Homo sapiens: one gene and its partners. The protein of the gene in region 1 purifies or fractionates together with the protein of each later gene. This does not show direct contact. Each region holds a gene or a part of one and is shown in the gene's direction. Other genes may lie near its edges. The genes, in order: IBTK, EIF4A1 and RPP25L.

Region 1 (7,429 bases):
CTTTTGAAATTACTTTGGCATATTGGGATGGAAGAGTTACATATTTGCCCCAGTATTAACTTATTTTTGGCAAGAAACTTTTTTTTCTTTATTCCAAATGTTCAAATCGTACAGCTTTAGACATAAATGTATTTTATTTTGCTGTGGTAATGTGCCTTTTATCTAATTTTGCAAATCTTTTCTTTCTTTGTAGTTACCCTGAAGAATGCTGCTATGCTACTGGAATTTGCAGCAATGTATAGTGCAAAACAGTTGAAACTGTCTTGTTTACAGTTTATAGGATTGAATATGGCAGCTTTACTTGAAGCAAGGTAGGTGAGGTGCATATGTTGTAAGATTGTTGCAAAAGGAGATATTTATATATAATAGCAGATATTATTAGTGATTTAAATGTGAATAATGATGTTTACCTGGATGGAAAGAATTTGATCAATGCTGATGATTTAGAAGTTATGTACATTTTAGAATTAGAGAGCTCTTGAAAACTTTTGAATGTTTTTAACAGTGATCTTTTTAAAATGAAATAAATGTATACTTTTTTAAAAATATAAGGTCAAAATATTTTACTTCCTATAAAGTCATTGGTGACAATATGAGAACACAGAAATTTGAGATTAGAGTTCCTGGTGTCAGTTTTTATTTTAAAGCTTCATTGTTTAGTTTATTTTTATATTTTACTTCAGTAGTAATGACTATTAACTATGTGCTAGACGGTGTTCTAAAAGCATTACATAGATTCATTTAGTTAATTTTTATGAAACTCTTATGAAGTAGAGAAGATTCTTTGTACATTTATTTATAATAGTTGCTTGAGGCCGGGTGTGGTGGCTTATGCTTGTAATCCCAGCACTTTGGGAGGCTGAGGCAGGTGGATCGCCTGAGGTCAGGAGTTCAAGACCGGCCTGGCCAAGATGGTGAAACCCTATCTCTAATAAAAATACAAAAATTAGCCGAGCGTGATTGTGTGTGCCTGGTAGTCTCAGCCACTTGGGAGGGTGTGAAGCAGGAGAATCACTTGAACCCAGGAGGCAGCAGTTGCAGTGAGCTGAGATTGCACCACTGCACTCCAGCCTGGGTGACAGAGTGAGACTCCATCTCAAAAAAAGAAAAAAAAAAAGAGTTGCTTGAGTTTTATTCAAGATATTTGTGTAATATGTTTGCTTTGCTGTTTATTTGAAATATGTAATATACAACCACATCTATTTCCAAAAGGAATTTGTAGCAACTGCTATATATAATGCTTAAAAAATAACTTTGTTACTTATCTAGCAATATGAAATATCTACGTATGTAAGCAACTTGACAGTTATCAAGTCACTTGAATCTTAAGATAGAATTTTGTATCCTATATTTTAGGTCTCTTGATGTTTTAAGCGATGGTGTTTTGAAGGATCTTTCTGAGTTTTACCGGAAAATGGTAAGGTTTATGTTTTAAGATTTTCGCGGCTATAATATTACCAGCTTAAGCAGTATATTAGATCAGACTTATTAATGGAATAGTTTCCTAATGACTTCTAGTACATTAGGATCTTTTAAAACTGATGATATAGGATTCCTTTACAGATCTCACAGATACATATGATAATCAGAATTCAAGATACTTAATAATAAAGTTAATATTTATTAATTTCTTTATAAATGAAAGTTACTGAAAGCCTCAGAGTAAGTCTTTTGTTATTTACCAGAGGTCAGGACCGTGCAAAAACATGAATTCATATGATCCCTAAGAAATGAATAAATCTATCTTTAATAATAAAGTGGAGCTTTTTCTCAAGTTTCCTTTTTGGCAGGTTTATGGAATAAAGTTTTTATTGAATTGAATCAAAATTTAACCCCCTCTTGTAAATTTAGGAAGTTATTGAGTATTCAAGGCTGTTCTAGTTAATGTCACCACATATTAAAAATGGAATATCTTACATAATTTAAAAAACATCTTTAGGCTGGGTGTGGTGGCTTATGCCTGTAATCCTAGCATTTTGGGAGGCCAAGATGGGAGGTTTGCTTGGGGCCAGGTGTTCCAAACAGCCTGGCCAACATGGCAAGAGCCACGTGTGCACAAAAAAAAAAAAAAAAAAAAAAAAAAAACTTCACAGATTTTGTATTTGAAAAGTGATATCTTCAATTCTGCAGATTCCAGCAATGGATAGAAGAGTCATTACACCATATCAAGATGGACCAGATATTAGCTATTTGGAAGTAGAAGATGGAGATATCTTCTTGAAAGAAGAAATAAATATGGAACAAAATCATTCGTAAGCTGTTTTCTTTTTTTTTTTTCTTTTCCTCCTTTTCTTCCTTCTTTTCTCCAGTGTGTCCCTTCACTCTCATCTTGGACATATGACACTTTTGTGTTGGTATTGGAAGATGAAATTGAGAAATTCTGACATAAGAAATAGGTAGTTACGCTCATTCTTAACCTTGGTATAATACAAAGTAAATACATAATTAATATCTGTAGGTCTAACACATTGAAAGTGTAAATATTTTAAAAAGTAGCCTTCAGGTTAAACATGTTGGGTTAAATAAGTGCATTTATCTTAGTTACCTCCCTAAACACTGCTGAAATTATGTTTGCTTTTTCCTAGGGAAACTATGTTCAAGAAAGCAAAAACAAAAGCTAAAAAGAAGCCACGTAAACGTTCAGATAGTTCTGGAGGTTATAACCTTTCAGATATTATTCAGAGTCCATCATCTACAGGTTCGTGGAAAGTGAGCATGTATTTCCAGTTCTAATCTTCTATGTCTCTATTCACATATGTCATCTGCTGGGGCTACTGAAATAAACAGTCCTTATGGAGGTACCAAAAGTGATAGTTTATTGTAAGTACTCCAGTTGAAGTTTGCTCTGGGAGCACAAAAGAGGTACTCAAACTAATCTGAGATCAGGGAAGTCCTCTTAGAGGAAAGCAATGCTGAGCTGAGTCTTGAAGAATGAAGTTATCTAAGAAAAGGAGGCAGATAGGTATATTAAGCAAAGGGGGCAATGTGTTCCCAAGCTTAGTAGCAAGAGAAAGAGTTGCACATTTCTTGTGCATATAGTTCAGTATAGGAGATAGGTTGGATAGGGTCAGATTTTGGAGGCTCTTATATGCCAAACTAAGGAATTTGTGTTTTATTCTAAAGGCTATGGGTGGCTGTTGATGATTTAAAACAGGATGTGACTGGATGAGATTTGTTTTTAGAAAGACTACTCTTTCCAGTGGCATAGGGGTTTAGAGGTTGGCAAAACATGACAGAGATAACTATTATCATGTTGATTCAATTTAAATATGTCAGTACTCCAAGTAAGATGCCATTCATATGCATAAGGGGGTTGTAATCTGGTAGTAGAATATAAAATGTATTTAGGCATTATGTGAGCCTGTTTGAAAGTAAAGGTCAGGTTATGTAGTTTTTCTAAAATATTTTTCCCCAGTTTTTTCTTTTGAGAATATTTAACTTACTGAAAAGATGAAAGAAAAATACCATGAACACCTATGTACATTTTATTCAGATTTATTGTTAACTTCTCATCACATTTGCATTTTCTTGCAGACTCTTTGTTGCTTACTGTCTCCTCTTTCCTCCATGTGTTACACACACACACAAACACACACACACACAATACAGAGACTTAAAAAAAAATTGTTCCACTTGGAATAAGTTGTAGACATGATACTTTTCCCCCGAATACTTGAATATGAATCTTTTAAGATGGGAATACTCTTCTACACAACCACAATACCATTATCATACCTGAGACAATTGACATTAATTAGTGTTAATTAGTATTATACTTCATATCCACATTTTCCTAATTGTTGACAAATGTTTTTATAGTCTTTTTTTTTTAACATTAACAAAAAAACTAGTATTCTATCAAGGTTCATATTATCTTTGCTTATTAGTATCTCTTTAGTCTCTTCTAACTAGTATAAAACTGCTGTACTTTTTTGTTTTTTGTTTTCTCTTTTCCAAAAGGTCAGTCCAATTGTGTTATAGACTGTCTCACATTCTAGATTCATCTGATCTAGATTAAACTATATACGTTTTAGTAGTTTCTTTAGATAAAACATGAATTGTGACTATAAAATAATGAGACTACAGTATGGCTTTCAGAAATGGTAGGTTACTCTTGTCTATAGCACTAAGGCATAACCTAGTACAGTTTCTGCTAACAGTACTTCATAGTCAATCAGCTGTATACAAACAACTTTGAAAAATAGAAGAGTACATTGTTTTGTGTCCCTTTGGAAAAAAAAGCTTGTTAGGCAGGGCAAAGAAGAAGGATTTTTTTTTTATGTTTACTGAGATGCTTCAAATTAGGTGCTTGATATGTTCACTAAAGCTCAAAGGAATAATGTCAAGAATAGTTTTAGATAACATAAAGATAAAAAAAGGATAGATAATATGCCTAAAATTTATTTATGAAGCAATGAAAATAGGAATCAGGAGACCTAGTAAATGGGAAAGCTATTATCTTAGGACTTTTCTAAATTTAAAATTCTGTGACTCTGTGTTCTCTGTGTTGTATGAATTACCGTTAGTGTTTAGAAGGAGGCAGGGGTGGATTGATGGAAGGATGAATAATGGATAGACAGTCTTGAAAGTAATGACTTTCCAGTCACCTAAATGACTTATGGAAAAGCAGATATTTGGTTTGTTTTAAATAATGTTATTGTTACCATATGTGTTAGAATCTTAGAATTTCAGAGCTAGAAGAGACATTAGTAATGAAATAATTTATGTCCCTTACTTTAAACCTAAGGAAAGAAGCTCAAAAAACATAAGTGATTTGAAGTAGTGACCAAAAGAAATAAAATTTGTTCTCTTGATTCCAGGTCCGTATTTTCCTGGTGTACTGTTCTTTCTGTGGCCAGGATATCTGTAGTCAAAGATAACTAAAAGGTCAGATTTAATTGGAGGCCAAAAAGACCTGTTAAGGAAGAAAATTTGAGTATGAGGCCAATTTCATCAAAGACAGTTGCGTAAAAGCTTAACATCTGTGTCGATCTTAAAGTTAGACAAACGGCATTCAGCAAAACTGTTTTTGACCAGAAGTAATTGTTGGCCACATTAATTGTCCTCTTTTTTTCTGGATTTATTTCTAACTGACTTTTGAGAGTGTTCTAATATTAGATGTATTCTCTTCGATGAAAATTTGCCAGCCTTAAAAATATTCAAAAAGAGGCAAGACGCAGTGGCTCCTGCCTGTAATCCCAGCACTTTGGGAGGCCAAGGCGGGCGGACCACAAAATCAGGAGCTCCAGACCAGCCTGGCCAATATGGTGAAACGCTGTCTCTAGTAAAAATACAAAAAAAATTAGCCGGGCATGGTGGTGCATGCCTGTAATCCTAGCTACTTGGAAGGCTGAGGCAGGAGAAACACTTGAACCTGGAGGTGGAGGTTGCAGTGAGCTGAGATCATGCCACCGCACTCCAGCCTGGGCAATAGAGTAAGACTCTGTCTCAAAAAAAAAAAAAAATTCAAAAAGATTGTGTGGCAAAAAAAATGTTTAAATGTTCTTTCCAAATTGTAGTGATAACAATAAAAGAAACATTTAGCTTGTTAAGGTGATTTACTTTAAAGAGAACAATGTATAAGAGATGGTAGGTTTTATTTTTAAATCAATTATACAGCTTTTAGTTACAAGTTAGATAACATCTTTATTTTATAGCTTATTTTGGTACTTCATTTAGATTCTAATAAATTTGAAATGTGTGGAAATGGACATGTGAATCTAAGCAAAAGTTTGAACCTGGATACCAGGTGTGGCATGAGGCCAGGCATTTAGCTTGCCTAAGAGAAGAAATGATATATACATTTCACAACAACCCTCTTGCTTCAAGCGAGCTCTCAATAGCCAGAGATTTCAGGGAAAAACACACTTCAAACAGGCCACAGTTGTCTTCTGCGGGAGCCTCTGCTATGGGGTCAGTCAGCTGGCTAAGTGAGAGGCAAAAAGGCCACAGGGTTCCTCCCACATAGAATGAAGCTACCCCCTTGCTTGGGTGCGGAGACCACTGTACCAAGAGACAGATGAGAAAGGGAAAAGAGGTCTGGATTTTAATTATTTTCCCTTTCTCCTTTGTCTCTTATGCGGACAAAAATATTTTAAATCACTTTTTAGAGCAGATCCCAAAGAACTATCTTCCTCAGGTTCATTACACAATTGGTGTGTGATTGTAATGAATAAAATTATTGTTTTAGAATCTCTTCCATTTCAGTTTTTCACTTAAACTGATTTCTTTCTCCAGTTAACTTGAATTATTAAGATTTTTATACCATAAATATAATTTGAATGTTATTAAATCTGGATAAATGAAAGCTTTTTTAGCTCTCTGGTTCATGGAATGTAATGCATATATGTTTAATGCATATGTGTTTAATTTTTTTTAATTTCATGTTTTAGGATTATTAAAGTCTGGTAAGACCAATTCTGTGGAATCTCTTCCAGAACTGTTGACATCAGACTCTGAAGGAAGCTATGCAGGAGTGGGTAGTCCTAGAGATTTACAGTCCCCTGATTTCACAACAGGATTTCATTCAGATAAGATTGAGGTTTGTTTTTTGAAGCACTACCTCCTTACCTTCAGATTTTAGATTTATAGATGGTTTATCTTTAATATTTCCTTATTTTTGCCCTAATTTTAAAACAGTTTCCAGGTTGGTATATAAGAATCACAAATATAGTGTTAGTTTTCTTAAATTTGCACAACATTTCTATTTTTAGAGATTGTAATGGCAGTTTTGAGCCCTTTATGATGTTATTTCTAGTCTTTGTGCAACTAAAATATAATGTTGATGTAAAATATAATAACACTATAGACATGTTGAAAAAATATATTTGTAGCTAAATTATTGAAATTTATCTTGTGAAATGTCAGTTAACATCAGTTAAAAATTGTCAAGGCAAATGATTTCGAAAATAAGCCTACTTTGAAAGTTCGCAGTCTCTTTCCTCCAGGGTATTAACTGGAGCAAAACAATTTGGAAATGATTTGAGTTCTTCTCCTAATCTAGCACATTAAGCTGCAGGATTCCTAGCCTAATCAGCTCTGGGGAGGGCATTTCTTAGACACTCCTTAACATTTGATTCCATAGCTGTTAACCTATTAGAGAAAAATGTGTAACTGAATAGAGATAGAGTCACTTTTCTGTAACTCCTACACATCCACAAAACGTATCGGAACTTCTAGGAATTCATAAGACAACAGAAGTTTACCCTTTCTTCTTAGAGTCTTTTAGGCCTCAAGGATTGATTTGATTTTTTTTTTTGAGACAGGGTCTCTCACTCTGGTTGCCTAGGCTGGAGTGCAGTGGTATAGTATCAGCTCACTGCAGCTTTGATTTCCCGGGCTTAGGTGATTCTCCCACCTAAGCCGGCAGAGTAACTGGGATTATAAGCACGCACCATCACGTCCAGCTAATTTTTTTATATTTTTAGTA
Region 2 (8,177 bases), on another chromosome or scaffold:
GCTCCTGGCATTCAACTTCTAAAATCCTTGGAATCTCCAGTGATGTGTGTTTTTGTGTGCTGATGAGTTGATTCATGGCTAGCCCCTCTAGGTGGCTTCATGATTAGAGGGTTGGAACTTTCAGCCTCACCCCCACCAACTTCCTGGGAGGGGAATGGGGCCAAAGGTTAAGGCAATCACTGAGGATCAGTGATTTAATCAGTCATGCCTAGTAGTGAAGCCTCTAAAAACCGGAAAGGGGCCGGGTGCGGCGGCTCACGCCTGTACTCCCGGCACTTTGGGAGGCTGAGGCAGATGGATCGCAAGGTCAAGAGATTGAGACCAGCCTGGCCGACCTGGCGAAACCCTGTCTCTACTAAAAATATGAAAATTAGCTGGGCGTGGTGGCGTGCGCCTGTAGTCCCCGGGAGGCTGAGGCAGGAGAATCGCTTGAACCCGGGAGGCAGAGGTTGCAGTGAGCCGAGATTGTGCCACTGCACTCCACCCTGGGTGACAGAGTGAAACTCTGTCTCAAAAAAGAAAAAAAAACCCGAGAGGAGGAGTTTGGAGACATTCTAGATAGCTGAAGGCATGGAGGCTCCCACAGGATGGTCTCCAGGCCTCTTCCCGGTACCTTTCCCTGTGCATCTTTTCATCTGTACTCTTTGTACTACCCTTTGTTAATAAACTGGTAAATGTGTTTCCATGAGTTCTGTGAGCTGCTCTAGCAAATTAATCAAATTCAAGGAGGGGGTCATGGGAACGCTGATCTAACCAGTTGGTGAGAAACACAGATAAAACAACCTGGGGCTTAGGACTGGCATCAGAATTGGGGGCAGCCTTGTGAGACTGAGCCCTAAACCTGTGACACATTATCTCCAGGTAGATAGTGTTGGAATTGAATTGGGGGATACCCAGCTGTGTCCACCGCAAAATTGCTTGCTTGGTTGTTGGTGGAGAGAAAGCCCCACAAACACTTCTTGGTGACCACAGGTTACAGAAGTATTTTGTGTTGTGAGAGTATAGTAGGAAAGAAGATTTGTTTTTTTGCCGGGCGCGGTGGCTCACGCCTGTAATCCCAGCCCTTTGGGAGGCTGAGGCGGGCGGATCACCAGGTCAGGAGATCAAGACCATCCTGGCTAACACAGTGAAACCCTGTCTCTACTAAAAATACAAAAAATTAGCCGGGCGAGGTGGCACGTGTCTGTAGTCCAAGCTACTTGGGAGGCTGAGGCAGGAGAATGGCATGAACCCAGGAGGTGGAGCTTGCAGTGAGGCAAGATCACGCCACTGCACTCCAGTCTGGGCAACAGAGCAAGACTCCGTCTCAAAAAAAAAAAAAAGATTTGTTTTTTCCTCCGCAGGTTGGATGTGGGAAATGAAGAAAAAGAAATGGAGGATGATGCCTAGGTTTTTGGCCTATGTAACGGGAAAAGTGGGAGAGGAACAGGTTGGGGGAGGAAAATGAAGAGTTCTTTTCTCTTCTGGTTTCCCTGCCCTCCCATTCAAAGGCCAGGAAATTTCTACAGCTAGGCAGGATGATTGGCTCCGGCATTCCTTAATTTCAGTCCTCAAAATCAAGAGCTTACACCCTCAGGGATCTTCTTGCAGTAGAGGGAAGGGTGGTGACGTACAGTGAAAAACATGTTGGCCTTCTTCATACTGAGTTTGAGTCCCACTTCTGCCATTTCTTTCTTTCATGACCTTGTGCAAGTCACGACTTTCCAAGCTGCAATTTCCTCATCTGTTAGGTTGAATGTTGAGAACTTCCCGGTAGGATTGTTATGAGCATTAACTGCGTGTTTACTTTGTGCTGTGTCTTGTTCTAAGTGTATTATGGATAGTCACTAGTTTAATCCTCATATCAAATGGATGAGGTGTAGGTACTACTATTTACACTCTCTGACAGATAAGGAAACTGAGGTATAGAAGGTTATTAAGTAGGTTGCCCACTGTCATAAGCCAGTAAATGGAGGAGCTGTATTTGAATTCTGGCAGGCTCCAGAATCCTGGGCCTGGGTTCTTAGCTGCTAAGTGCTTCTCCCTTTAAAGTGTGAAAAGCGCCTGCCCATCATGGGTTCTCCAGTGTTCGTTCTGATGTCTCCTCCATTGTCTGACCTTCCTCCCTTACCCCGAAGAACCGAAACATGCAGATCCTGAGCTTGCCCACAATCTAGGCCTTGGGTCTTCTGTTCTTTCACTTGGTTCCCTTACCTGTGTCTCTGTTCCTCTCTAGAACCTTCATGGCAAAAGGCAAGACTTCTGTTTGTTGTACCTGACCTGTGGCACTATCTCTTTAGGTGGACATCTTCAATAAGGAGCTACTGCTAATCCCCATCCACCTGGAGGTGCATTGGTCCCTCATCTCTGTTGATGTGAGGCGACGCACCATCACCTATTTTGACTCGCAGCGTACCCTAAACCGCCGCTGCCCTAAGGTTTGAGGGGGTAGGAGAGAGATGGGCAAAATGTGGGGCGGTGCAGTGGCAAGGCATTGCAGGAAGAAGGGTGGGCTTTGGGTCTTTGAGGGGCGACCTGGGCATGGTGTCTGCCAGCACTGTACCCACCATACTGTGTTCAATTGAGAAACTTAGGGCATCACTTTCTTTTCCCCCATCCACATAGCATATTGCCAAGTATCTACAGGCAGAGGCGGTAAAGAAAGACCGACTGGATTTCCACCAGGGCTGGAAAGGTTACTTCAAAATGGTGAGTTTCCTGAGGGAGGGGTATAGGGTGTTGGTGGGGACAGTGGTAGAAGGCAGAAATTGAAGTCCTACCCCTGGGAGTCTCCATGTGAAGGGCCTGCTTTCTTTCTCTTCTCTAGAATGTGGCCAGGCAGAATAATGACAGTGACTGTGGTGCTTTTGTGTTGCAGGTAAGCAGATGATGGGGCCACCTCCCCTAGCTCTGAAGTCAGTTGGGTTAAAGGGTCGGGAGGCTGTTATGCATCCCCTCATTTGGCTCATAGTCAGTTGTGGAGCAGGAAGTAATCTGTTTTAGAACACCAAAACACTGGCTTCACTGGTTCTCTTCTGGACTTCTCCATCCCACATTGGGACTGGGTCTCTAGTCTTGGGCCTCTGGCCTTCATAGAGCTCCCTGCTAACCTCCAACTCAGTGTATTTTCTCCATCTAAAACATTCTATCAAGTAAGAACACTAGCTTTAGAGTCAGGCTGTTTTTGAACCCCAGGCTGTGGGACCCTGGCTCCCTTTGGGGATGTTCTCTGAAGGATGGAGACACATCTCATATGAAATGTGTAGCACAGGTCCTGACACGGGGGGTTTCTCATGGCTTGCTTTGTTAACACCCAGTACTGCAAGCATCTGGCCCTGTCTCAGCCATTCAGCTTCACCCAGCAGGACATGCCCAAACTTCGTCGGCAGATCTACAAGGAGCTGTGTCACTGCAAACTCACTGTGTGAGCCTCGTACCCCAGACCCCAAGCCCATAAATGGGAAGGGAGACATGGGAGTCCCTTCCCAAGAAACTCCAGTTCCTTTCCTCTCTTGCCTCTTCCCACTCACTTCCCTTTGGTTTTTCATATTTAAATGTTTCAATTTCTGTATTTTTTTTTCTTTGAGAGAATACTTGTTGATTTCTGATGTGCAGGGGGTGGCTACAGAAAAGCCCCTTTCTTCCTCTGTTTGCAGGGGAGTGTGGCCCTGTGGCCTGGGTGGAGCAGTCATCCTCCCCCTTCCCCGTGCAGGGAGCAGGAAATCAGTGCTGGGGGTGGTGGGCGGACAATAGGATCACTGCCTGCCAGATCTTCAAACTTTTATATATATATATATATATATATATATATATATATATATATATATATATATATATATATATATATATATATAAAAATATATAAATGCCACGGTCCTGCTCTGGTCAATAAAGGATCCTTTGTTGATACGTAAGTGGTGGTCTTCCTTAAGGGGCTTCAAATTAGTGGATATGCTTAGCTCAGACCTTCCAGCCAGTCTCTTGAGACTAAAGGGTTCAGCTTTCCATCCCTGGCTCAGGCACTGCCAACACCTTGTCTTCACCCAAACAAATCCCCGAGATGGGAGCAGAGAGCAGGAAGGAGGGAAAGTAGATAAGCCTCAAGAATAAGGGCATCCGAGAGGGAAGCTGGGGAACTGGACACAAGGGACTGGGGAGGGGACCAACCAGGATTCATGATAGTACCCCAAAGCCCTTTACAGTTTTCTTCCATCCCTCCACCATCCAGCCAGGGGAATCCTCCCATCCCTACGATATCGCTGTTGATTCCTTCATCCCTGGCACACGTCCAGGCAGTGTCGAATCCATCTCTGCTACAGGGGAAAACAAATAACATTTGAGTCCAGTGGAGACCGGGAGCAGAAGTAAAGGGAAGTGATAACCCCCAGAGCCCGGAAGCCTCTGGAGGCTGAGACCTCGCCCCCCTTGCGTGATAGGGCCTACGGAGCCACATGACCAAGGCACTGTCGCCTCCGCACGTGTGAGAGTGCAGGGCCCCAAGATGGCTGCCAGGCCTCGAGGCCTGACTCTTCTATGTCACTTCCGTACCGGCGAGAAAGGCGGGCCCTCCAGCCAATGAGGCTGCGGGGCGGGCCTTCACCTTGATAGGCACTCGAGTTATCCAATGGTGCCTGCGGGCCGGAGCGACTAGGAACTAACGTCATGCCGAGTTGCTGAGCGCCGGCAGGCGGGGCCGGGGCGGCCAAACCAATGCGATGGCCGGGGCGGAGTCGGGCGCTCTATAAGTTGTCGATAGGCGGGCACTCCGCCCTAGTTTCTAAGGATCATGTCTGCGAGCCAGGATTCCCGGTAAGAAAGGCATTTGCAAGAGATTGTGGCTGCTTATTTTGCCGCCCCCTTCCGACGGGCCCGCCGGGGGTAGCTGAGAGGCCCACCAGGGTTGCGGGAGAAACCGAACCGGGTGGGGGGAGGGTCCGACTTGGAGGGGCGAGGGGGAAGACCCACGGCCGACGCGGCCACCAGGTCGAGGCGGAGGGTAGGGACAGCCCGGCTAGGGTCAGGCGTGCGAGGTCTGTTACGAGGCCTCGACCCGAGGCGGTGCCATGCGCGAAGCCCCGGCGCTGAGTGGCGAGACGGGGTCGCGACCTGGCGTGGGAAAGAAAGGTGGAGGCGGCCGCCACTATGTGTGGCCCAGAGCCGGCAGGTCCGGTTGCCTCCCTGTGCCGGGGGAGGGACGGCGCGCGGGGTTCCGGAGCATTCTGACGGTACCACTCGCGAGAGGCGGGGGTGCCTGGTCCTTAGATCCAGTCACTTCGTCGCGGCTAAAACACGGGTCGGGGAGAAGAAACCGGCCGTTCAGTGTGCTGGTTTTCTTGACGGCCAGGACTGAGCCTAACCCCGAGGAGCGGCCGCGTGAGGCACCAGGAGCCCACCCGGCGCCGGGCGGGCGGGTCCATTTTGCCGCACAAGCCGGGCTATTGGCAAACTGCGGATGGGCAGGTCCACCTTCCTTCGGGGGTGAGCGGCCTGAGGTATGGGAGGGCGACGCTACTTCGCGACGGGGGCGGGCGGGATGTGGATTGTTCATGGAGGGGTGGGAGACGCCGCCGGGTGGTCGAGGGAGCGAGCACATGGTGGCCTGAGGCGTTCCCCTCCCCCAGTCTGCTTCGCTTCTAAGTGTTGTGCAATCTCCCCCTTTGCTAGCTCGGCTTGGGCTCATTGTGCGCGAGGCCGCCACCGCCCGCGGCCTCCCACATCCGGGCAACGCGAGGGGGGGGCTTCGGCTGGAGGGAGTGGGGGAGGGCGCGGGCGGGATGACGTGGGGGGAAGGGGATGTCCTACCCTCCGATCTGGGAGGTGAAGGGCGGGACTTCCAGCGCGCTGGTGCTGCGGTGGGAGGTGCACGCGCTTGGGCTTTAAGCGGCTGGGTCGGGCCCACGTGGACCCGGCGGCAAGCACCACCTCTGGGCACCGTGAGCGCGGCGGCACGCCTGCCGGCCTGTCTTCAGAAAGGGTCACCCCCTTATGTCGGGGGTGGCCTGGCCTGAGCCGCTGCCTGCATGGGGCAAATGCCTCAGTTTTATAGAAACTCCTCCTTTGGGTATTTTTTGGGAGCTGGTGGGAGTTGGATCTGGGACAGCAGATTGATGGCATCATGCAGGCCACTCCTGACAGAGCCCGGCTGTCAGGATTTCTGAGTGCTTCGGTCGGGCAGGGGACAAAACTTATGCTTTAAACCAACAGATCCAGAGACAATGGCCCCGATGGGATGGAGCCCGAAGGCGTCATCGAGGTGAGACTGGAGAAATGGAATTCTGTCCTCCCCCATTACAACTTTCAGCCGTATAGAGTTAGAGTGGCCTCTTGATTGATTTCCCAGATCATCTAGAAGCAGCTGGTTTCCCTAAAGGGAGGAGGGTTGTAAGCTCTGAGGCTTTTGTTAGTAGGCACCAGATTCTGTTTGCTCGGAGACTACAGCTCAGCTCCACCTTTTCCATGACTCAAGCTTTAATTTCTTTGCATCCCCTAGAGTAACTGGAATGAGATTGTTGACAGCTTTGATGACATGAACCTCTCGGAGTCCCTTCTCCGTGGCATCTACGCGTATGGTTTTGAGAAGCCCTCTGCCATCCAGCAGCGAGCCATTCTACCTTGTATCAAGGGTGAGACCTCTCAGTCCCAGAAGACATTGTGGACTGTCCCTGACCTGGGTAGAGTGGCATCTGGTTGGTGATGCCCATCTCATATCAGCCAGGGACAAAGCAACTCCTTGTTCATCCCAGCTTGGCTTTTGATCCGTGCCCATGCCTGGTTCATGCCTTGGACACATAGGTTTCCTTTAAAGAGGTGGTATTGTAGCCAGCTTATATTTGCATCTACAGCCATGTTTCTAGTCCAGCTTGGTGTGCAATACTAGATGAGTTAATAACTGGTCCTTGTTTCTGATCTGGTTCCCATTGTGTAACTGTGTTGATTGGGAAGGTAGTTTGTGAGCCATGAAATGCTTGGTTCATTGGTTGCTTATTGACCTCATTAACCTAGGACTTGAATATCCCAAAGGGTATGCTCTTTACCACATTCAACTCCTAATTTATTTGTTTAGGTTATGATGTGATTGCTCAAGCCCAATCTGGGACTGGGAAAACGGCCACATTTGCCATATCGATTCTGCAGCAGATTGAATTAGATCTAAAAGCCACCCAGGCCTTGGTCCTAGCACCCACTCGAGAATTGGCTCAGCAGGTAAGAGTGGCTTCTATTCCCTCCTTCAGGGCTGATTTAGGGATGATGAGTATAATCCAAGGACCAGAGAAGTCTTCTCTGATCACCACCTTGGGAGGAAGACATGGGTGCCCTAACACTCTCGAGACCTGCTGGGTTAATTAAAAGCTATTTCTTACCCAAACGTAACCATTGCTTCCTCCACCCATTTCCTGAGTCAAATGGGAAAGCTGTTGGGTGAAGCCTGGCTGGCTGGGCAAGTTTGACTGTGTTCTGAATAAGCACCTTCACTATGGGCTAAGAGATCCCTTGGTGTGGGGGTGATCTTACAGTAGTCAGAGCAGATGGACAGTCCTTTTCACCCTTGCTTAATAGCCAGAGCTGTTTCATGCCTGGGGCACACACAATTCTAATGCTGGACTTTTTCCTGGGTCATGCTGCAACACTGATGTCAGAGCATGTTTTTAAATGTTCTGTGGCAGGGGCAGTGATTATTCTGGGTGTGGATAATGTAAGAAGTTACAGCAGAGCTCCATTCTAAGGCACTTGGCTCTCAGTTTTCTCAGAGTGAACATGCCTCGTAGCTTGGGTCCTATGGCAGGAGTGCAATAGGACATGGATATGCATCACCTGTTCTATAAAACTGGTTGCTGGCTGGGTGTGGTGGCTCAACTCGTATAATCCCAACACTTTGGGAGGCCAAGGCAGGCAGATCTCTTGAGATCAGGAGTTGGAGACCAGCCTGGCCAACATAGTGAAACCCCGCTTCTACTAAAAATACAAAAATTAGCCAGGCATGGTGGCGTGTGCCTTTTATCCCAGCTACTCGGGAAGCTCAGGCAGGAGAATTTAACCCAGGAGGTGGAGGTTGCAGTGAGCTGAGATTGTGCCATTGCACTCCAGCCTGGGCAACGAGCAAAGCTCTGTCTCAAAAAAAGAAAAAAAAAATGGTTGCTGCGTGATGAGGCAGTTGGTCAAATTAGTTTTCAGAAGGTTAAGGGTTCTAAATATCTAGA
Region 3 (6,752 bases), on another chromosome or scaffold:
TCAGATGGGTCAGACCTGAGGCATCCAGGAGAGTTGGGGGCAGGATGGAAATGTGCACCTAGAGAAGGGGGCAGTGGACAGAGTCACTGTCCAAAGCTCTAGGACCTAGCCATCTCCCTTGCCAGGTCCTCAGGCCCTTACATGGGCTGATTAGCAATGCCCAGGTTTGCTTCACTGCAACTATCTTGTCCATTTTTGCTTTAGAGGAGCAGTTTATCCTTTCCCAGGTTGCACTCCTGGAGCAGGTGAATGCCTTGGTGCCCATGCTGGACAGTGCTCACATCAAAGGTATCTCTCTGGGGTTATAGCTTCACTACTCTGGTTGGGGAGGTAGGTGGATGGATGGGCAAGACTTTCCTGTGTTTCAGGTTGTGTGGATTCGGGTTGGGTCTGTTCCTTATCTTTTTTTTTTTTTTTTGGACAGAGTCGTACTCTGTCACCCAGGCTGGAGTGCAGTGGCATGATCTTGACTCACTGCAACCGCTGCCTCCTGGTTCAAACAAACTTCCCACCTTGCCTCCCAAGTAGCTAGGATTACAGGTGTGTGCCACCACACCTGGCTATTTTTAGTAGAGACGGGGTTTCACCATGTTGTCCAGGCTGGTCTCAAACTCCTGGCCCCATGTGATCCACCTGCCTCGGCCTCTCAGAGTGCTGGGATTACAGGCGTGAGCTACTGTGCCTGGCCTGTTCCTTATCTTTATCCTCACCCTGAGGTACTTGCCACATCCACCAATTAAAATTACCAGGATAGAGAGCCCAGTTTTAGGACCTCAGGCAATTTGGGCCTGAGAACACTAGCCTAAGCTCTAGCAGTCCCCAGCTCTGGGGATTCCTTCTGCCTTCTACCTACCCCCAAGCATCTCTTCTTCAAGGTGCTGCAGAACCCAGATTTTACTATCAGAGTCTCTGCCAGGTCCATGAATGTATGTGAATTCTTTCTGCTGCACTGCTGAGAGCAGTCCCTGGGCCTGGACTTTGACAAGCAGATAGTGGCTTTAATTGAATCCAGATATCCATCTTGTCTGTCTGTGGAGGTATTTTTCCCAGCTCCCCCTCCCTACCCCTGATCAGCTGCCCGCTGAGTATCTGACAGCCTTAAGCTTTGAGCCCAGCATGGTGGCCAAGCCTTGGCGTGTTGGATTCCAGCTTAGGGACCTGGCATCCATCTTCAGACTCCCTGTTCCCTAAGCCAGGCAGACCTGCCCCCGCTGGGCTGAGAGCAAAGGGACAGGTCCTATAATAGCCAAAGCTCTCTTTACCTGGTCCTGCTTATAGCACTGGGGTGGGGGTAGGGAGCAACACTGGGAACCCCAAGGTTTTGTCTTCTCCTCGGGACATGTATCTTCCCCTCCCCTATGGGTCCTGGAGTAAGACTGGAGTGGGCAGGGAGCCCCACTGCCACCTCCAGCTGCAGCAGTCGATGAAGTCTGGCGTTTGTTTAGCTTCTCCACTCAATACTCTAATCCTGCCAAAGACCTAATAGACTATTGAGCAGTCCCGGGGGAGGGCACAAGCATCATCCAGCAGTGTGTGTTGTGTTTTACAGCCGTTCCTGAGCATGCTGCCCGCCTGCAGCGCTTGGCCCAGATCCACATTCAGCAGCAGGTATGGGAGGGGAGATGACTAGAAGCGAAGATGGAGGTGGCGCAGCACCTCATCCCAACTCATGCCACCTGGGGAAGCAGCTTCAGGCCTTTCTGTTGTAACCTCAGCAGAAACTTTGGGGTTTATCCTTTATCTTGCATATGCCCCAGGGAGGTAAAGGGACTTGCCTAGGTTCATGTACAAACTTTCTGCTTCCAGAGCAGGACTTTATTGGGACACCATAAGGTTGAGGCTGGGAGGTACCCAAGAATTCCTGGGGATGGTATGTCATTGACTGTGGGTAGAGGGGCTCTTTTTTCACTATTCCCAGGCCCTAGTGTAAAGTTCAAAGAGAGTTCAGAAATAAGGACAGAAGAAGAGACATACACTAGGGGGAATGTTTACTTAATGTATGGCCACTCCCTTTTCCATCCGTCTTTGGACTGCTGTTAGGGCACCCATCCTGGAGCCTGAAAGTGCTCCCATAGCCATTTGCTCCTTTGGCTTTGGGGTTAAGCGTCATCTTTTTTAGGCTCCATGGGGAGTGGGAGTCCGTGATGAGGCAGGAAGTTTAGTGGAAGATGTGGGCTTTGCCCAGTTCCTTTCTGTGCTACACTTTGGCCCTACAGGACCAGTGTGTGGAAATCACTGAGGAGTCCAAGGCTCTCCTGGAGGAATACAACAAGACTGTATCCTTTCTGCTCAACTAGGACCCTAATGGGTGCTGTCCCTAAGCCCTGTCCTTTTGTTCCACCTCTAGCTCTCTCTCATCCTATCCTACCCACCTATGTTTGCCTGTTCCCCACTTTCCATGAACTTCCTCACTCAGATTCCTATTCTCACCTTGACCTACAACCAGACAATGCTTCTCTCCAAGCAATTCGTGCAGTGGGATGAGCTACTTTGCCAGCTAGAGGCCGCCACGCAAGTGAAGCCAGCAGAGGAGTGATAGCTGCTCCCCATCCCAAAGTGGGCCTGGGCAGTCAGGCTCCAGGGCCCTATGCCAACCTGCCTTTGTTACAAGGCAGAGGAAGCTTTGTATTTATTGGCTTCAAGGCCCACCTCTCTGTACTCTGGGCTCTAAAGTTGGAGGTCAGGTTACCTGAGGTTTGCAATTTGCAACACCCACCCTCCCCCCAATCAGTGTTCTTATTTCAGTGACAATAAACCATAGAGATGACTGGAGGAGTGTGCTGGCTTCTTGGTCTAGGATGGAGGTGGTAGGGGGCAGAGGTGTCAGCCTGCCTAATCGTTTGACTGGGAACTAAACTCATCCTGGTCTGGCTTTCTGGCAGGTGTAGAGCTCTCAAAATGAAGGCTCTCATTTGATTATGTGAATAGGATATTCCTTTATGTATCCATTTATCCCACATTTACCAATAAGAGACCTCCAAATGTCAGATGATGGGAGTAGATAGGGCTAATCCCTGCCCTGCACGGGCTAGCAGGATAGACAGTAAAGGAAAAGGGCAGTCCTATCAGGTGGACACAGAAGAAAAAAGGGACTGAAGGGACCTGGTAAGTGATATCCAGGGACTTTCAGAGCCAAGGGAGCAGCATGTGCAAAGGCCTTTAAATTTCTCTCTTGGGAGCCTACCTGCTGCCACGAGCCGAGAAGGGCAGCCTAAGAGGTTTGGATGCAGGAAGTTTTGGTCCTGGGGAGGGGAAGTTGGGAAGTAGGGGCGCTGGGGCAAGCATGTTGAGAAACAGATTGGCACCGTAGTCCACCAAATGTTTGCTGCCCCCTTGTGGTCTCAGGGAGTGCTCTGGCTCCAGACCCTTTTTCCAACGGCCCATTGGCCGCCCCGCCTTTGCGACCTCTCCGGCACCTCAAATTCAGCGTGTCCAAACCGATCTGAAACCTGGGAGTCACCCTAGATCGGAATTTCCTACTTCTCCGTCCAAACAGTGGCCAACTCGTCACTGAACCTACTAGTATCTCCCAACTTAATCTTTTTTCCATTCCCACCGCGATTTCTCTGGTTCATTAATGTAACAAATCATTTAACAAATATTGAGCGCCGGTCATACGCCAGGCACCATACTAGGCTCCGTGGGCACCCCCGCCCCCTCAGCCCCCAGACTCCGCGGCAGGTGTCGTCAGGGGCTGTGGCCCGATTTCCCCACCACTCCCTCCTCGGCTCCCTGCACAAGATCTGGTTCGACTGGCCCCTGGAAAACCCGGAAAACCCCCGTGGTCCGCCAGCGCCCACAGGATGAGGTCGAAGCTCAGAAGTCGGTAACTAAGGCTCTCGCCCATGCAACAGCAGCCACTACAAACTGAAGCCTTTGTTCGCACCCACGGTGAAACCCACAGCTCCCCGTTTGCTCAACAGCTAACGCCAGCCCTCCCATCTTCTAAGGGCCAGATCCCCCTCCTTCAGACGCAGGACTTCCCCGACGGCCGCTCCTTTCTACCGCAGGGAACTGTCCTGCCTCCCTCCGGGGCGTAACAGCGGAGGCTGCGCTCGTGTTCCCATCCCCGCTGGGACTGGTCCGGGGCGCTCTGGCCAGCGGGTTGTTTCCGCGGCGGAGATGCCTCGGGGCCCGTCCCTCACGCCCCGCCCCTCACGCCCCGCCCCCTCGGGGCGTGCGCGGCCCCGCGGCCTTAGTGCGCTCCGGGCCCGCGCGCCATCTTGGCTCCGGATCGTGCGTGAGGCGGCTTCGGTGAGAGCCGGAACCGGGCGGGCAGAGGGGCGCTCGTAGGGTTGGGGGACGCCTGTGGCTTGGCTGCAGCGGCCGGCAAGACCCTGGAAGAGACCGTGGCTATGGAAACGGCCAAGGCTGTCTTGGAATGTCCTGAGCAGCCCTCCGAGTCGAGCCTCTGCCCCCGAGTTTCTGAGTGACCTGGGTTGATATAGATTGACCTTGGTAATCTCTGGGAGAGGGGATCCGTTCTGTTTGGGGGCAGCACTGGATAAGGGTTCTTGGCTGTTTCCCGGGGGGCCTGGGGCGAAGGGCCTTGTCCCTGTCCTTGTAGAGCCCCAAGTGAGGAGCGCTCTCTATTGGTATTAGTCTGGGGTGAGGGTTCCAGGCCCTGTTCCAAGGAGCCCAGGATAAGGGGGGCTAAGCCCCAGTCCTGGAGAGTTTAGGATGAGGGGGCCTGGCACTTTCCCAAAGAGCTCAGTGTTTGGGGAATGTGATCCTGCCTCTTGGACTCCAGGATTGGAGGTGGGGGTGTTATGGCCCTTGTAGAGGAACGGGGTGTATGGGGTACAGCCCTTTCCCAGACTGCGGCAGGCATGGACCTTGTCACGAGATGCTAAGGACAAGGGGACATGATCCTGTTTCTGGGAAGTCTGGAACGGGGAGCAGGGCCATATCCTGGATGGAGATAGGGGATGGTGGACAGTGACTTGGGGCACATTGCTTAGCACTTACCTGATGCTTCCCTGCAGTGGGCAGCGAGAGTCACAGACAAGACAGCAAGCAGGATGGAGCACTACCGGAAAGCTGGCTCTGTAGAGCTCCCAGCGCCTTCCCCAATGCCCCAGCTACCTCCTGATACCCTTGAGATGCGGGTCCGAGATGGCAGCAAAATTCGCAACCTGCTGGGGTTGGCTCTGGGTCGGTTGGAGGGCGGCAGTGCTCGGCATGTAGTGTTCTCAGGTTCTGGCAGGGCTGCAGGAAAGGCTGTCAGCTGCGCTGAGATTGTCAAGCGGCGGGTCCCAGGCCTGCACCAGCTCACCAAGCTACGTTTCCTTCAGACTGAGGACAGCTGGGTCCCAGCCTCACCTGACACAGGGCTAGACCCCCTCACAGTGCGCCGCCATGTGCCTGCAGTGTGGGTGCTGCTCAGCCGGGACCCCCTGGACCCCAATGAGTGTGGTTACCAACCCCCAGGAGCACCCCCTGGCCTGGGTTCCATGCCCAGCTCCAGCTGTGGCCCTCGTTCCCGAAGAAGGGCTCGAGACACCCGATCGTGAAGACCTGCTGAGCCAGCCTGTTCTCCGGGCCTGAATGTCTGGGGTGCTTGTGCCTTTTCTGAGAAGCGTTGTGACTGCTCAACATCCCCATCAAGGTTTGAGTCCACAAAAGTGGACCTCCCTATCATGCTTCCCCTTCCCTCTAGCATGTGGGAAGGGACTGCTGTGAAGAATGACAGATGTGGGGCCTCTGCCAAGTTCTGCATTGCTAAATAAGGGCTTCCTCTGCCTTCTACCTACAGTGCATTTGAACTGCCTTCTGAAAGAGGTCCAGGGAGGGATTTAGGAAATAAAGTTTCTACCTATTTGATGAGCCTCTACTCAGCCTGCTATGTGGAGTGGGATTAAAGAAATGGGAGTCCCCGCCCTTACCCCGGGGGGCTGATCGGGTGAAGACAGAGGAAGAGTAGTAGGCTCAGGCCGGTGCTGGGAGAATATAGTGTCTACAAGAAGCCTCAGTCAGTACTGAATATATCTAATTCCCTGGATAGTTATTTGCCCCTGCTTTGGCCTGGTTTAGGAACACTGCCAGGTCAGACATTTCTCTCCATCTGCAGCATACAGTATAGTATAGTGGTTGTGAGCATGGACTCTGGTACCAACCTGCCTGGGTTTCAATCCTGGTCTGCCACTTATTAGCAAGTTACTGCTCTGTGCCTTAGTGGTCTTATCCATAAAACAGGAATACGATAGTGTTTATCACATAGGATTGTTATGAGATTACATAAGGAAATATACATATATGACATTTAGATACCACACTGGCACATAGTGCTATTAAGTGTTAATTGCTATTATCGTTATTAATGACTTACCTATCCCAAATGCAACAACTGTCTCACACCTCCTTCCCTCCAGCTTCCTTGCCCCAATCTCAGCTATGGAGCTGGACTCTGCTTTGAAGAGACAGAGGCCTTTCGAACTCCCTCATGTTCCATCTTCACCTCCAGACCTGTCTGTATACACATTTATCCTCAACTCCACTAGTTTGCAAACATGCTTTTTCCTGTCTTAGAATCATATCTTTGGGTTGGGCACAGTGGCTGATGCCTGTAATCCCAGCACTTTGGGAGGCTGAGGCAGGAGGATTGCTTGATCCCAGGAGTTGGAGACCAGCCTGGGCAACATAGTAGGGAGACCCTGTCTCTACAAAAACATCTAAAAATTAGCTAGGCATAGTGGTGTGCACCTTTAGTCCCAGCTACTTGGGAGGCTGAGGCAAGAGGATCGCTTGAGCCC

The links.
Region 2: the proteins of IBTK (region 1) and EIF4A1 purify together in Homo sapiens (co-immunoprecipitation; 5 studies listed by BioGRID and IntAct, with this or other methods). This does not show direct contact.
Region 3: the proteins of IBTK (region 1) and RPP25L purify together in Homo sapiens (co-immunoprecipitation; 3 studies listed by BioGRID and IntAct, with this or other methods). This does not show direct contact.

Annotation. Positions count from the first base shown.
Region 1 is NC_000006.12:82,195,410-82,202,838, reverse strand, and holds part of IBTK (inhibitor of Bruton tyrosine kinase), read left to right. Parts: intron 1-193; coding exon 194-311; intron 312-1,356; coding exon 1,357-1,417; intron 1,418-2,130; coding exon 2,131-2,252; intron 2,253-2,585; coding exon 2,586-2,698; intron 2,699-6,392; coding exon 6,393-6,541; intron 6,542-7,429. UniProt on the Homo sapiens protein: Acts as an inhibitor of BTK tyrosine kinase activity, thereby playing a role in B-cell development. Down-regulates BTK kinase activity, leading to interference with BTK-mediated calcium mobilization and NF-kappa-B-driven transcription.
Region 2 is NC_000017.11:7,568,077-7,576,253, forward strand, and holds the start of EIF4A1 (eukaryotic initiation factor 4A-I), read left to right. Parts: upstream 1-4,748; 5' UTR 4,749-4,765; coding exon 4,766-4,788; intron 4,789-6,183; coding exon 6,184-6,232; intron 6,233-6,469; coding exon 6,470-6,602; intron 6,603-6,636; exon of another isoform or gene 6,637-6,771; intron 6,772-7,042; coding exon 7,043-7,182; intron 7,183-8,177. Other genes in the region: SENP3 (sentrin-specific protease 3), read left to right, coding at 2,280-2,417, 2,605-2,688, 2,807-2,857, 3,297-3,407. UniProt on the Homo sapiens protein: ATP-dependent RNA helicase which is a subunit of the eIF4F complex involved in cap recognition and is required for mRNA binding to ribosome.
Region 3 is NC_000009.12:34,609,566-34,616,317, reverse strand, and holds RPP25L (ribonuclease P protein subunit p25-like protein), read left to right. Parts: upstream 1-4,220; 5' UTR 4,221-4,254; exon of another isoform or gene 4,255-4,458; intron 4,459-4,985; 5' UTR 4,986-5,021; coding exon 5,022-5,513; 3' UTR 5,514-5,823; downstream 5,824-6,752. Other genes in the region: DCTN3 (dynactin subunit 3), read left to right, coding at 205-288, 1,550-1,608, 2,217-2,276, 2,447-2,536. UniProt on the Homo sapiens protein: May be a component of ribonuclease P or MRP.